2 linked regions of the Homo sapiens genome follow. The protein of the gene in region 1 purifies or fractionates together with the protein of each later gene. This does not show direct contact. Each region holds a gene or a part of one and is shown on either strand. Other genes may lie near its edges.

Region 1 (3,652 bases):
GGGGGCGAGTCTGTGAGTGGGGAGACCCTCCGGGCCCTGCAGGAAGTCATGGAGAAGCTGGAGGGGAGTGAGTCCTAGCATGGGCCAAGAAGGGCAGGGCTGGGGCAGGTCGCTGCTGAGATGTGACCCCATTATTTTGGCTCCAGAGCGGCCTTATGGACCTCCTGGAGGAGAAGGCGGACCTGAGGGAGCATGTGGAGAAACTGGAACTTGGATTCATCCAGTACCGGAGAGAGAGATGCCATCAGTGAGTGGGAGGCCAGGGCACGGCAGGGGGAGCTGCAGGGCTATGGGAGGGGCCCCAGCGTCTGAGCCCTGTCCTCCCGCAGGAAAGTACATCGCCTTCTAACAGAGCCAGGGGACAGTGCCAAAGATGCGTCACCGGGAGGAGGCCATCATCAGGCTGGCCCAGGACAAGGAGGAGAGGAAGGTAGGGTGTGCAACATCCCTGTGGGGGTGGGGGTGGGGTGGGGGTGTGGGTGGGGTGGGCATGAGGGTGGGCGCCAGCAGCGGCCTGACAGCTGAGCACCCGTCCCTTCAGGTGAAGCTGCTGGAGCTGCAGGAGATGGTGTTGCGGCTTGTGGCAGCTACAGCGAGGGGCACGGCAAATTCCTGGCCGCTGCCCGGAACCCTGCTGCTGAACCCAGTCCAGGAGCCCCAGCCCCCCAGGAGCTCGGGGCTGCCGACAAGCATGGTGGTGAGTAGAGCCCCCAGGCGGGGTGAGCAGGCAGGAGCGGGGGGCGGCTAGCACTCCACTCAGATCCCCGCCTCCCTCTCTCCAAAGATCTTTGTGAGGCGAGCCTCACCAACAGCGTGGAGCCTGCACAAGGAGAAGCCAGGGAGGGTTCTTCCCAGGACAACCCTACTGCACAGCCAGTCGTGCAGCTCCTTGGTGAGATGCAGGACCACCAGGAGCACCCAGGCTTGGGCAGCAACTGCTGTGTGCCATGCTTTTGCTGGGCTTGGCTGCCGAGAAGAAGGAGATAAACACCACCATCATCAAAGAGCTGCTCAAGAAATTTTTAAAAACGAAACAAAGTTATGGGGTTAATCTCCTACACAATTCATTTACTTCATTTGAATGTTAGAGCTACTCATGATTATTTGTGTTTCTAATTTATAGTTTAAGTTTATTTGTAAAAAGTTAAAAGAGAGTGGGTCTCTGTGGCTCTCACTGATGTTCACTCTGGCATCCTTCAGCATTTTTCTTTTTTCATTTCATAATTGTAGGTCATTAGCATGCATATCGAGTTTGCCCTTACGTGGTGGGAGTTCAAACACACAAAGACCCACTCTTTGCACAAAACTGTTCTCGCTGGTTTGGAATAGGCTCCCGTGCTTTTCTAATGTTATTGCAGCATGGATGTCCATTACAGAATTCAGATAAAATTTGCTAATGTTCTGCTATGATGTTTGATCTCATCTTAATCACAGTGAGCTCTTCTATAGCTCAATATGCGGTTTGCCCTCAAGTGTGCACTGTTTATTACTTTGTAATATGCCACTGTGAGTACTGACATTTAGAGCTGTTTAAAGGCCGAGAACTGGAAACAGCCTTTCCTCCATTTTCTGTGTATTGGTGATGGGAGTGATAACCTTTTGGGGGAGCTTTCTAAATCTCACAGAAGAGGAAAGTGGCCTGCTCTGGCAGGTATGTGCAGGATACAGTGTGTTTCATCTGTTCCGGTGCCAAGAATGAGCAGTGTACTGTGGCAGTTCCCTTTGGATTTGTATGTGCTCTGGGCTCATGAAGATATTGCATCGTGAGCTGCAGCAGTTGCACTCTTTTTCAGTGACCTAAAAAGGGCTTATTTCCGAGGAATGAAAGGCTGCCATCATTGGCTGTGGGTGTGAAAAACCTTTCCTAGCTTAGAGCATTTGTATCTACAATACATTTTAAAGTCAGAGTTCGTGTTCCCTGTTTTAATCACATGACTACCTGTCCCAGTACACGAAAGGGCGCTGGTTGGCATTCTTCTTAATGTATTTAGTGAAGATCATAAGAAATCCTTTAAGAGTTTAAATGTCTCTGAAACAGGCATACAGGCTCTAGTCAAGAATGAATTAGAGTGAAGGAAAGCTGTGTGACACCTGGCATTCCTCTCTGTTCATGGAGCTTCTTTGAGGCTTGAAGTTTGATTTTACTATCTAGACCTCTCTGGCTAATACCTATTCTTCAACCACCTCGGTTACTCTGACATAGGAATTTACTTCTTTTCCTTGAGTGGAAAACACTTTAGAAAGTAATAACAAACATTATTATAAACTAATATATGTGAGAGTACTTAGTTGAAACAAAAAGGAATTTTAGTAGACAGTATTATATTATCTTTGAAAATCAAGGAGAAGTTTATGCAACTTAAAATGTTTACACACTGTGGTGCAATCTACTGTTTGTGAATGTCTGTATTATCAGGAAACATGTCTATACGATCGCAGAGTTGTATTTCCTCACAAACTTCTTTACGAAGAGTGAAATACGTTTTTGTACCTCTCATTTTCAGTCAGGGACATACTTTGTGCAATATTTCTGTGATTGTGCCTATGCATGATGAATGAATGCATTTCAATCATACATTGCCTAAATCATAACTTGATGATGCTTGGGAAAGAATCAACAGTTAAAACTTCATGAAGTTCTAATGTCTGTGTTCCAAAACACATCACATTATTAGGTTGTAGGGAGATATGTAGGTGTGCTCCCTGGGGTGGGGAGTTTTCTAGTTACTAGACCATCTCCATTTTTAGCACTTGGCAGCCTCATGATCCTTTTATAAATGTGAGATTAACAGGAGAGCAGCAATACGATTTTGCCAATGGAATAACAGATTTGCCGGCATTCACTGAAAGAGGGCAGATATTGGGTCCTTGTAACTTCAACTGACTCTTCCAAATTGTATGAATTTATCAATGTATTACACAAATCCAGTTTCAGAATGATAAAAAATGTTAGACCAAATAATGCGGCTAATTAACAGTCGTATGATTTCTAGCCCATGGGTTTAAAACTGTATCTTAAAGAGTCATTTTAAAATAATATAAATATTAAAAAATGTAACTGCTATCTTAATGTTCTGAAATAAAACATTTTAAAATATAAATCCTGTAGTTTAAAAGGAAGAAATGGTGGGAAGGAAAAGTAGAGAAAGAAATGCCAATTCCAGGCCAAAGCGTTATTTGCCAAGTTTTCTTAGAATGAATTTTACCAATGTATGAGTTCTTGTTAACAGAATGTGTAACGGAAATACTGAAAGACTTTTGCTTAAAGTGGCATTATTGACTGCTGATGTGATGCTACTGTAATGCAATAAATTTTTAAATTGTTGCAAAGTGCTGTTTTTGCCTTAAAATTTTATTTTGCGTGTCTTGAAAACTATAGTATTAAAAGTATTGATATTGTGCAAATACTGGGCATGCTTGGCATGAGATAATCTGTTTCATTGTTACAAAAATGTAGTATAACTATGCAAGTGTTTATTGAAAGAACACAACATAAAAAAGGTATGGGATTAAAAAAGTTTTGGGGTGAAAAAGTTATCGGATAAAAATGTAAAAAAGTTGTGGCAAAAAGTAGAAAAAAGTTTTCTGAAAAGTTATCATGGAGCACGGTGGCTCAAGCCTGTAATCCCAGCACTTTGGGAGGCCGAGGTGG
Region 2 (3,652 bases), on another chromosome or scaffold:
AATATTTTTACAACTATATTAAAAATAGAGAAGTGGACAAAGATTTCTACTCAAGAATGCTCACCACAGGGTTATTGATAATAGCAAAGTAAGGGACAAAGAGGAATGGGGGCATGACTAAACTGAGCCATATTCACATAAAAGATATCCTGGAAGCATGTTTAAAAAATGTTTTCGTCCGAGTGCTGTGGCTCACACCCGTAATCCCAGCACTTTGGGAGGCCGAAGCAGGAAGATTGCTTGAGCCCAGGAGTTCGAGACGAGCCTGGGCAACAAAGCGAGACCCTGTCGCTACAATAATAATAATAATAATTATGCAGGTGTGGTGGCGTATGCCTGTAGCCCCAGCTACTTGGGAAGCTGAGATGGGAGGATCACTTGAGCCCAAGAGTTCCAGGCTGCAGTGAGATGTGGTCGCACCACTGCACTCCAGCCTGGGTGACAGATCAAGAATCTGTCTCTTAAAAAAAAAAAAATTAATGCTTTCCAAGAGTAAATATTCATGTGGAAGAATGCCCATTATACGCTGTTTAGTGAAAAGGGCTTAAAAACGACATACTGCAACACTTCATTATTGTTGCATGCATATCTGCAGATGTGCAGAGAAATACTGGAATGGAGAATTAGCCAGACTTTAACCATGTCTGTCCCTCTGTGTGAGATCACAGGTGGTTTGGGGGGTTTGTTGTTGTTTTGTTTTAACATAATACCTTTCCATATTTTCCAAATTCCTTATAATAATCCTGAGTTGTTCTTATAACCAGAGGAGTGGGAAACCCACAGTAAACTGCTTTTTGAAACTAAAATGCTTTCTGGCCCTGAGCACACCTCTCCAGGCATCCCTGCCTCACCCAGGCCCCCGTGGCCTCTTTGACTGTTGACTTCACTTTAAGCAGATGCCCAGGCCCTAGGTCTTCCACCGGGCCCACCGCCCGCCCCTGTGATGGAGCTCCCTACCAGCACCAGGGCGATGCAGTCCTCTGTGGTGGAGGCCGAGGAGCAGGTCACGCTGCCTTCGCTCAAGCCACTCCACTGGTTACACTTGCGCAGCTCCTGCTCGCCCACCGCACACCACACGACCCGCGCACGCCGGGCAGCCACTTCCTCCTCACCTGCCAGAGGGAAGACCGCAGGTGGCTGGGCAACCTGAGCTTTGCCAGGTTGTCCAACCTCCCCAGAGCCAGGGTCCTGCCCAGACTCTCCCTGGAACAGGAGCTACAGTACATGTGTGGACATGTGGACCCATACCCTCTCCTCCTCCACTTCTCAGCTCCAAGCCCCTTCTTCAGGTCCACAGAGCTCCCTGTGTTTCCCACTTCTGTTCCTTTGGAGAAGTTCCCTGGCTTCTAATCTATCCATTAATCTTTAGAGTCAGGAGGCGCCTATTGTCTCTGTCTCTGAGGATAAACGCTCCATGACCCAGAGACCAGTGACAGTCCCAAGAGATGGCCTAGGGGACCTTGAGCCCAACCCTGACTTCCCCTAACGCCTGCAATCACCACCAATAACTACGGTGCAGCCTCTGGGTTCCCCCAGACTCCCACCCCCAGCCCCCCAGTAGAGAAGGAGCCATAGCTGAGTTCCCCCACCATGGTGTCCCCAACTAAGTTCAAGGTCTGGGCCTGGGAAGTGTGGGTAAATCCAGGCCCCCGGATTCATCCAGGAGGGGTCCTGGCTATCTTTGTTCATGTTCATGTTTCTCACTTAATAGGAGGCAAACTGATTTTTCTGCCAGGCCTGGGGAGCCTGACGTGCACTGATCAGGTGGCCAGACTATTCTTTTAGAGACACCTGACCTAATCCACAGAAGACACTCACACCTGCATCAAACCTCCACGATGACCCCACAGTGTCTGGGAAAAGGAGTGACCGCCACAAAGTAGGGCCACCTGCTGGGAAGTAGAAGACCACACCAGGCGGACCTCAGGACCCTCCTGGGCTCACTCACTTTTCCTCAAGTTCTGGATGGCAGTGAAGTAGCCGGAGCCAAGGTACAGCCCAGAATCTATCCTCGGGGGCACCCTCGAAAACCCAATGGCAGAGTCCTTGAACAGCAGATCTTTCTGCCCACTAGGGGAGCCAAAGAGCTGGAATTTCGGTGACTTGTCCTTTCCAAACTTTTCCTAATTAAGAAAAAATAGAATTATGGTGTCAATGGTAAATAGGGAGGAAACAAAAAAATGATGTTAAAAAAGAGTATCTGGAGCTTTGGGATCATTCTAACTGAGAGCAGGAGCCTCGGTTGAGACCCTCCTGCAGAGGGACTTGTGCCATCTCGGAGACCCAAGCTCAGCTATGGCTCATTCTTTGAAGAGTTGCTGAGGTCCAAGCACCTTAGGGCCCTGAGAAGATTGCATCGACCACCCCCTGCTTCTGCTCCCATCATAAGACGCTGTCAGCCCGTGTGACAGAAGAGTTTCATTGCTTCTGCTGTCCACAGTACAGCCTGGGCAAGCAGCCCAATGCATTAGTGTGCTATCCTGCAGCAAAGCTACAGGACTTCTGGAGTGGCAGAAGTCAGGGAAGTAAGAAACCTTGCTCCCTGCCCCCCATATCCAAGCAAGTGGGGAGGACCGTGGGTGAAGATACCTGTGCCTGGCGGAGAAGATTCCAGATGGCATCCTCCTTGCCATTCACACTTCGTGCCACAACGGCATGAGAAGGGACCCGGGCCAGATGGCAGTCTTTGAACTTGTCCACTGGCTTCCGAGTGTTGTCTGGGCAGAGTAACTCATACTCGTCCCTTTCAGCCTCGTCTGACAGGTCCTCTGCAGGGAAGGTGAGGTGGGAGGGAGTCTAGATAAGCCGACTCCAGCAGTAACCTCGAGCTATAGTTCCCCTTCTCCCTATAGAATTTTGAGCTTGGGGAGATAGCTGACAAAACTGAGGGTCAGAAAGGCAGGGGTTTGCTCCAGAACACTCAGAAAGGTAAAGGTAGTGCCCCAAAAGCCTCAGGGGGCAGCCGAGGTGTGATCCTCATCCTAAATCACTTAGGCCACCCTGGGGTTCCCGTGCAGCTGCTGCCTGGCAGGCCAGAGAGGCCAAACCAGACCCGTCTGTTTCTGCGGCATCTCTGCCTGGAAAAGTCACTTTGCAGAGACAAGCTCAGGGGGCCACCAAGGGTTGCTCCCTTACTCACATCTCTGGGAAGAATAAAAATGACAAAAATGTTAACAAGGCAGGGAATAAGGCAGGAAGGTGAGACACTTTCCAACACTGAGTATATCAAAAGAAGGGGAAGAATGGTTTTATGAATGAGTTCAGGCAAATGTGGAATATCATATATAAGTTGCTTCAGAATGTGTAAAGTGAAAAAAATCTTGCCCGAGTCATTTTATGAGATTAGTACAACCTTGATGTCAAAATCAGAAAAAGTATAGGAGGGAAGAATTAAAAGTTTATTTTACTTACGAACATAAATGCAAAATTTGTAAATAACGTACTAACTAACTCAATCTCACAGAGTATTTAAAAAGCTAATAGATTGGAATGAAGGTTTACCAGTGTATTCCATTAACAAAAGAATGGCTGAACATCAAAAAAACTAAAGTAATCTGCATTTAATGGCAGAAAACCATGAGATCGTCTTCATCTTAATAGATGCAGAACGATTGTTTATGTGTTCAACATCTATTTGTGTGTGGTTTTTTTT

The links. Proteins that work in one complex are often made in the same cells at the same time.
Region 2: the proteins of GOLGA8A (region 1) and LTF purify together in Homo sapiens (affinity purification with mass spectrometry; one large-scale study listed by BioGRID and IntAct). This does not show direct contact.

The regions. Positions count from the first base shown.
Region 1 is NC_000015.10:34,378,746-34,382,397, reverse strand, and holds the end of GOLGA8A (golgin subfamily A member 8A), read left to right. Parts: coding exon 1-12; coding exon of another isoform or gene 13-67; intron 68-146; coding exon 147-247; exon of another isoform or gene 248-329; coding exon 330-430; intron 431-541; coding exon 542-697; intron 698-784; coding exon 785-987; 3' UTR 988-3,330; downstream 3,331-3,652. UniProt on the Homo sapiens protein: May be involved in maintaining Golgi structure.
Region 2 is NC_000003.12:46,447,906-46,451,557, forward strand, and holds part of LTF (lactotransferrin isoform 1 preproprotein), read right to left. Parts: intron 2,769-3,652; coding exon 2,590-2,768; intron 2,124-2,589; coding exon 1,949-2,123; intron 1,113-1,948; coding exon 958-1,112; intron 1-957. UniProt on the Homo sapiens protein: Transferrins are iron binding transport proteins which can bind two Fe(3+) ions in association with the binding of an anion, usually bicarbonate. Lactoferricin binds to the bacterial surface and is crucial for the bactericidal functions.